Homo sapiens: one gene and its partner. The protein of the gene in region 2 purifies or fractionates together with the protein of the main gene of each other region. This does not show direct contact. Each region holds a gene or a part of one and is shown on either strand. Other genes may lie near its edges.

Region 1 (3,500 bases), on a different chromosome or scaffold from region 2:
CACAAGCTGCCTAGCGTTGGTGTGTGACAAACACACGCACAAATATGGAGGGAAGAGGTCAAGGGGACTTCATGAGCTCATGCCTCTCCTTTCTCCAGCTTCGGCCAAGGGCAGCTGGATACAGACCAGCAGCTCCCTGGCCTTCCTAGGTGCCTTCTCCGGAAAGGACACCCCCTCATTAGATGCTAGTGGAAAATGCCAAAGTCCCACAGGACATCACTCCAGAACAACTTATCAGGGGACTCTCAATTCCCAAGGCTGGCTGTGGATGGGAATCACCTGGAGCGCCTTTTAAACAAAAGGTGCCAGGCCCCTTCCATTGTGGCCGCCAGTCTCATCTGCAGCCGGACACAGGACTGGGGCTTCATCTCCTGGGTCATCTCCCACCCAGGCCAGGTATCCAGCGGGACTTGGGCTTGCAGGATAGGGAAGGCAGTTTTAGCCACCCCCTCCTCCCTGTGGGGAACCTGCTCCAGGCTCAGAGAGGATGAGCCAGGAAGGAAGCTCCAGGGCAGCTGGTGAAGCCACTGGCCTCAGTTATTTGTAAGTAGCCAGTTTCGGTGGGGACTTCCGGCCCCCAGGAAGCTGTCCTCTGCTGTCCTCTCTCCGGCTCAGGGCCAGCTCCTGGGCCTGCCCGTGCTCCCTCTCCATGACATCGGCCTCCCTCAGTAACTAGCTCTGCACCAGGCCCTTTCCTTTTACCCCTCTGCCTCCCAGATTAAATCAGTTCTCCAGTCTGCAGTCTCCCCTCCATCCCCAGCGCCCCAGTCTTCTCTTCCCTCAGCCACTGCAGCAGTCTCCTTGGTCATCTCACTGCCCCGTCTCTCCCTTCCAATCTCCAGCCTCCCCAGGTGACCCAAGAGGTCACCCTATCACTTCCCCCTCCTCCAGGGGCCTGTGCCTGGCACTCAGGATGCACCCGCTCTGGCCGTAAGCTGGTTCATCCTCTGCCGCCTCCCTGTGCCTGTGGCTAGCCCCCCACCAGCACACCCCCACCAGCACGTCCCCACTGCCCGCTGCTCCCTCTGTGCTCCTCTACCATCACAAACCCCTTCCCACTGGGTCAGGGCCAGCACTGCCCTCGTTCCCTGAAGCCCGCACCCTCCGCTTCTGCTTGTTGTAAAGCCCTGGTGTCCTCTCAGCCTCCAAAACAGACTCAAACTCTCCCAGCCCCAGCCTAGGGCGTGGACGGGGCTTGCTGAATAAAACATGAGTGAAAGGGTGGGGGCTTTCCTTGGCTGGGCACACTCCCCCAAGACCCGCAAGCTCCCTGGCTCACCTCCTGGAGACCCGCTCCTCCAATGTGGACCATCCTTCTAGAAACTACCGCCCACATGCCCATGCCCAACCCCTGGGCCCTCTTTCCTGTCTGTCTATAGCCTTCACATTCAGTGTACGACTGACTTCCTCACCGTTCATTTGAGAATGTAAGAGCCTCGTGAAGGCAGGGGGCTGTACCTGACTGGCTCTCGGCTGTGTTCCAGCGCCTAGAACAATAGCAAGAGCTGCTGGCACGGGGTGGGTGCCATGTACATGCCTGCCCAAGGGAGGAAGAGCTGAATGTCGGGAGCCTGAAGGACAGCATGATGTGCAAGGAGAAAAAGGGACTTGGGCTGGACAACGTGAATTCCAGCCTTTCCTGCTAATCGCGTAAGGACTCTCTGCGTCCTCATATCAGCAAAAAACAAAACCTAAATGAAACCCAAACCCAAGCTACCCAGTGACAGCTGCCAAGCCAGGCTTCCCTGTGCACGTGCTCAGTGCTAGAAACAGTTGGCTTCTCCTGCTTTATTTTAATCTCAGCAGTGCCAAGCCCTGGAGATGAGCATCTCACACTGACTCTGGGAAGTTCAGAGCCAGCTACTGAGTGTATGGATAACGGGAGCCCACAGCTACCGAGTGTATGGATTCCGTGAGCAACAGGTGTAAAAGCCCCACACAAGCTGCCTAGCGTTGGTGTGTGACAAACACACGCACAAATATGGAGGGAGGAGGTCAAGGGGACTTCATGAGCTCACGCCTCTCCTTTCTCCAGCTTTGGCCAAGGGCAGCTGGATACAGACCAGCAGCTCCCTGGCCTTCCTAGGTGCCTTCTCCGGAAAGGACACCCCCTCATTAGATGCTAGTGGAAAATGCCAAAGTCCCACAGGACATCACTCCAGAACAACTTATCAGGGGACTCTCAATTCCCAAGGCTGGCTGTGGATGGGAATCACCTGGAGCGCCTTTTAAACAAAAGGTGCCAGGCCCCTTCCATTGTGGCCGCCAGTCTCATCTGCAGCCGGACACAGGACTGGGGCTTCATCTCCTGGGTCATCTCCCACCCAGGCCAGGTATCCAGCGGGACTTGGGCTTGCAGGATAGGGAAGGCAGTTTTAGCCACCCCCTCCTCCCTGTGGGGAACCAGCAAGTGCGTTTTACAGCCACACGCGGCATAACAGCATTTGGGTCAACGATGGACCACATGCCATGGTGGCCCCATAAGACTGTCACGGAGCTGAAACCTCCTGTCGCCTGGTGACCTCGCAGCCACCGTGTAGACGGAACACAACACACTCCTCACTTTGCGGAGGTGCTGGTATACACACACCCCCTGCACTGTCAGCTGTATAAACGTCTTGCACATACAATTACATACAGAACATAATACTTGACAGTGACAATAAACGCGTATGTTACTTGTTTATGTTACCGTACTATACTTTTTAATCAGTATTTTAGAGTGCATGCCTAGTTATTAAAAAAAAAAAGTTAACTCTAAAAGAGCTTCAGGGAGCTCCTCCAAGAGAGATTCTGGAAGAAGGCAATGTTTTGTTTTGTTTTGTTTTGTTTTGTTTTGTTTTGTTTTGTTTTGTTTTTAGACGGAGTCTCCCTCTGTTGCCCAGGCTGGAGTGCAGTGGCATGATCTCAGCTCACTGCAACCTCCGCCTTCTGGGTTCAAGCGATTCTCCTGCCTCAGCCTCCTGAGTAGCTGGGATTACAGGCACCCGCCACCATGCCTGGCTAATTTTTGTATTTTTAGTAGAGACGGTGTTTCACCATGTTGGCCAGACTGGTCTTGAACTCCTGACCTCAGGTGATCCACCCACCTAGGCCTCCCAAAGTGCTGGGATTACAGGCGTGAGCCACTGCACCTGGCCTGGCATTGTTATCCTAAGAGATGACAGCCCTGTGCCTGTCACTGCTCCTGAAGACCTTCCAGTGGGACAGGGTGTGGAGGCAGAAGGCGGTGATACTGTGGATCCTGACCCTGTGCAGGCCTAGCTAATGTGTGTGTCTGTGTCCTTAGCTTTAACAAAAATGTGTTGGAAGTAAAAAAAGAATTAAAAAATTTTTTAATAGAAAAAGCACATGTAGAAAAATAATATACAGTTGTGCAAGATGTTTGAGCTTTAAGCTAAGTGTTATTACAAAAGAGTCAAAAACTTACATTTTAAAAGTTTATTGGCTGAGTGTGGTGGCTCACGCCTGTAATCTCAGCACTTTGGGAGGCCGAGGTG
Region 2 (4,143 bases):
AAATGGTTCTATTATAAAGACACATGCATGCATATGTTCACTGCAGCGCTATTCACAATAACAAAGACATAGAATCAACCCAAATGCCCATCATTTGGCCATTTGGATAAAGAATGGATAAAGAAAATGTGGTACATATATACCACGGAATACTATGCAGCCATAAAAAAGAATGAGATCGTGTCCTTTGCAGGGACATGGATGGAGCTGGAGGCCATTATCCTTAGCAAATGAAGGCAGAAACAGAAAACCAAATACTGCATGTTCTCACTTATAGGTGGGAGCAAAATGATGAGAACACATGGACACACAGAGGGGAACAACACACACTGGAGCTTACTGGAGAGTGGAAGGTGGGAGGAGGGAGAGGATGAGGAAAAATAACTAATGGACACTAGGCTTAATAGCTGGGTGATGAAATAATCTATACAACCAACCCCCATGACACACATTACCTATGTAACAAACCAGCACATCCTGCACATATACCCGCGAAGTTAAAAAAGTTTTTTTTTAGTTGCTACTTTAAAAGGATGTGGGAATCATTGTAAACTCAAAAGTTAAAGATGTGCCAAGAGCTGTCTCCCACGAACTTGTTTAACAAACGTACTGACTTTGTATGTTGATCCAATACCCATGCTGGCCACTGGACATACCAGTACAAACAAGGCAGAATCTTCACTCTCCTCTAGCTCTTCTAATTCTCATGCACTAAGTGCCAACCTTAGCATAACTGGGCTGACAATCAGTGAATCAAATATCTAACTCTTATCCTACTCCAACGTTAAGAAAGAGACATGCGACTGGGTGCGGTGGCTCATGCCTGGAACCCCAGCACTTTGGGAGGCCAAGGTGGGCGGATCACTTGAGGTCAGGAGTTTGAGACCAGCCTGGCCAACATGGTGAAACCCCGTCTCTACTGAAAATACAAAAGTTAGCTGGGCATGGTGGTGCATGCCTGTAGTCCCAGATACTCTACTTGGGAGGCTGAGGCAGGAGGATTGCCTGAACCTGGGAGGCGGAGGTTGCAGTGAGTCGAGATCACGCCACTGCACTCCAGCCTGGGCAACAGAGTGAGACTCCATCTCAAAAAAGCAAAAGAGAGACACATGCAAAGGGCTTGCTCTTTCTTTCTCATCTTACCTATCTTATGTTTTCCTCCAGGATCAAGAGCAAGGAATTTGTTGCATAGAGGTGTTCAAGAAAGGGTGTTTTCAAACAGAGTCAGAAAAAACACAACTATACTGCGAGCAGCATACAAACCTGCTTTGGCTGCACTTCACTGCTCATGGCATAAGGCCACGAAGAGGCCAATAAAGGCTGGAGCTCAGGAGCATCAACCCAGATTCAAGGCTTCCTCTCTGGCACCCAACCATGAAGCTCCTTTTTCCTATCTTTGCCAGCCTCATGCTACAGTACCAGGTGAACACAGGTAATGTGGATTCCCAAGTTTAAGATGGGTAGATGAGAGGAACCAAGGATTTGGCTGCCCATGACAATGGAAACCCAAAGAGAGGAGACTGAAAGATTAGCTGTTCAAAAAGATGGCTAAAGAGCTTACCTATTGTATCAGTCATGCACTGATACATTCTCATAGGCCCCAACTGCCAGATTGTGTCCAGTGGAAACACCCAGGAAGCTACAGAGAAAGCAGGGTATTTTTTGTCTATTCAGAAACTATCCAAAATATAATGCTGCCTTCCTGCCCTGTATATGTCTATCATGCTAAGACTAAGCCCAGGTCTACCTCCTTTTAGCTCTATTTCTATCTTAAAAGCCCTTTTTTTTTAAAAAAAGTCCTGGGGTACTTGTGCAGGATGTGCGGTTTGTTACATAGGTAAATGTGTGTCATGGTTATTTGCTGCACCTACCAACCCATCGCCCAGGTATTAAGCCCAGGATGCATTAGCTATTTTTCCTGATGCTCTCCCTCCACCCAACAGGCCCCAGTGTGTGTTGTTCCCCTTCCTGTGAAACCACCTCTTGAAGCAAAGTTTCCTATCAGTTTGTGCTTGGTGTAGAAAGGAGGAAGTTCTTCCCTCATGCTCAAAAAAAAACCCTTTCAAGATCAAGTAAACAGGCCTGTGTTCTCCATCTTGAATTCTTTCAGGTTTTCCAGAGCCTTTATCGCTTCTCTCAGACTTTGTCTTCCTGAAAACCCCCAAACTACCATAAGGGCATCTAGGAATGCATTATAGCAAAAGGCTAAGCCAGGGGATTAACCATTGTTTTTGGAAAAGAAAGGAGAAGCACTGAGATTTGTTTCAGAATACAAGAATCATCCAGCTATTTGAAAAAATTAGCAAAGGGTTTCGGGGCAGGGAAAGTGGAAGTGTCAAAGATGCTTCTAATGTTTTTATCTTCTAATGTTTTTATCTTGGGACCCTAGGAAAAGGGTAGTACCATAAGCAAGTATGGCTGTGTCATCTTGGGTAAAGTCACTTAACCACTTTGAACTTCAATTTCACATGAGTATAATGGGGTTAATCAATGCAGCTGATTCCAATATAAGAATTTTTCTGTTTCCCGTTTGATGAGAAAACAATGTGGAAATGTATGCAAATATGCTTTGAAAATTAGCAGATGCTACATAAATCTCTTGTAATTTAGGGAAAATCATTGGGTTATTAAGATGAACAAGGGAGAAAAGCTTTCTTGATTCAGAAAAAAGAAACACGAGACATTAGGATGGAAAAGTCATTCAGCAGATAAAGATAAGGTACTAAGCCGAGCAGGAAATTTAGAATTATAGATAACAATACAGAAGTTACCTTGGTGGATATGAGGTTAAGGCTAGGATAATGAATGAGACTTCTGAGAGATAGAGTGTCCAAAGAGGCTAGAAGAGATAGAACACCATGCTTCAGGAATCACAGATCTAGTGATTGTTGAGAAGAGAGAAGTCATGGGCTACTGAGTTTGGTGAAAAGATAAGACTCCTGAAAATTCTATTGATTCTCTTTTGAACTTCTTTCTTAAATTAGTTTTATGATGGACTTGGCTCTCATTGGTATTTCCCAAGATTATGGAGATGGGATAGTGATGTCTGACAAGTACCTAAGATGCTAAGTTGAAGGTCTAAAATTCCATCCTAAAAGCAAATAATTACTCTATCATCTACGTGCCCTTTGCTTCTTAAAGTTACTCAAGGAAGGCAGACTAAACAGGAAATTTACTTTGGATTCAAGAGGGGCATAGAGACGCTCTCAGCCTGCCCATTTGCCTTCATCAACATTCCTAAACACTGGGCTTAAAATGTAGTATGAGTAAACTCTCTCTTAGTCTATCCATCTCCCACTAGCAGTTTTAACATCATCTCTAGTTATTAACCTTGGCTCAATGGCTTTCTCTTTTTTTATACAGAATTTATTGGCTTGAGACGCTGTTTAATGGGTTTGGGGAGATGCAGGGATCACTGCAATGTGGATGAAAAAGAGATACAGAAATGCAAGATGAAAAAATGTTGTGTTGGACCAAAAGTGGTTAAATTGATTAAAAACTACCTGCAATATGGAACACCAAATGTACTTAATGAAGACGTCCAAGAAATGCTAAAACCTGCCAAGAATTCTAGTGCTGTGATACAAAGAAAACATATTTTATCTGTTCTCCCCCAAATCAAAAGCACTAGCTTTTTTGCTAATACCAACTTTGTCATCATTCCAAATGCCACCCCTATGAACTCTGCCACCATCAGCACTATGACCCCAGGACAGATCACATACACTGCTACTTCTACCAAGAGTAACACCAAAGAAAGCAGAGATTCTGCCACTGCCTCGCCACCACCAGCACCACCTCCACCAAACATACTGCCAACACCATCACTGGAGCTAGAGGAAGCAGAAGAGCAGTAATGTGGATCTTTCCCTTAAAACTCCAAGTTCCTCTCTATTTTTGCTATCTATAAAATGACATAGAACTGTTTCCTCTGTCATCAGTCATTCAATAAACACTGTTTGAGCACCTACAGTTTATGTAATATTATCATTCTCACAAGAGCCTCACAGAGGGGGTAGAGCTAGGGAGGGATGGAATTGTTTAAGTTTAGATGCCCAGGAGAAAGTAAGCCTCAGGAGGGTGACTACAGCATCGAGTTTGTCCCAAGCATGGCCTAGATTAGGCCTCTGTAGCAAGCATTTA

The links. Proteins that work in one complex are often made in the same cells at the same time.
Region 1: the proteins of DEFB129 (region 2) and NSG1 purify together in Homo sapiens (affinity purification with mass spectrometry; one large-scale study listed by BioGRID and IntAct). This does not show direct contact.

What each region holds. Positions count from the first base shown.
Region 1 is NC_000004.12:4,411,102-4,414,601, reverse strand, and holds part of NSG1 (neuronal vesicle trafficking-associated protein 1), read right to left. Parts: intron 1-3,500.
Region 2 is NC_000020.11:225,915-230,057, forward strand, and holds DEFB129 (beta-defensin 129 precursor), read left to right. Parts: upstream 1-1,343; 5' UTR 1,344-1,374; coding exon 1,375-1,432; intron 1,433-3,363; coding exon 3,364-3,857; 3' UTR 3,858-3,972; downstream 3,973-4,143. UniProt on the Homo sapiens protein: Has antibacterial activity.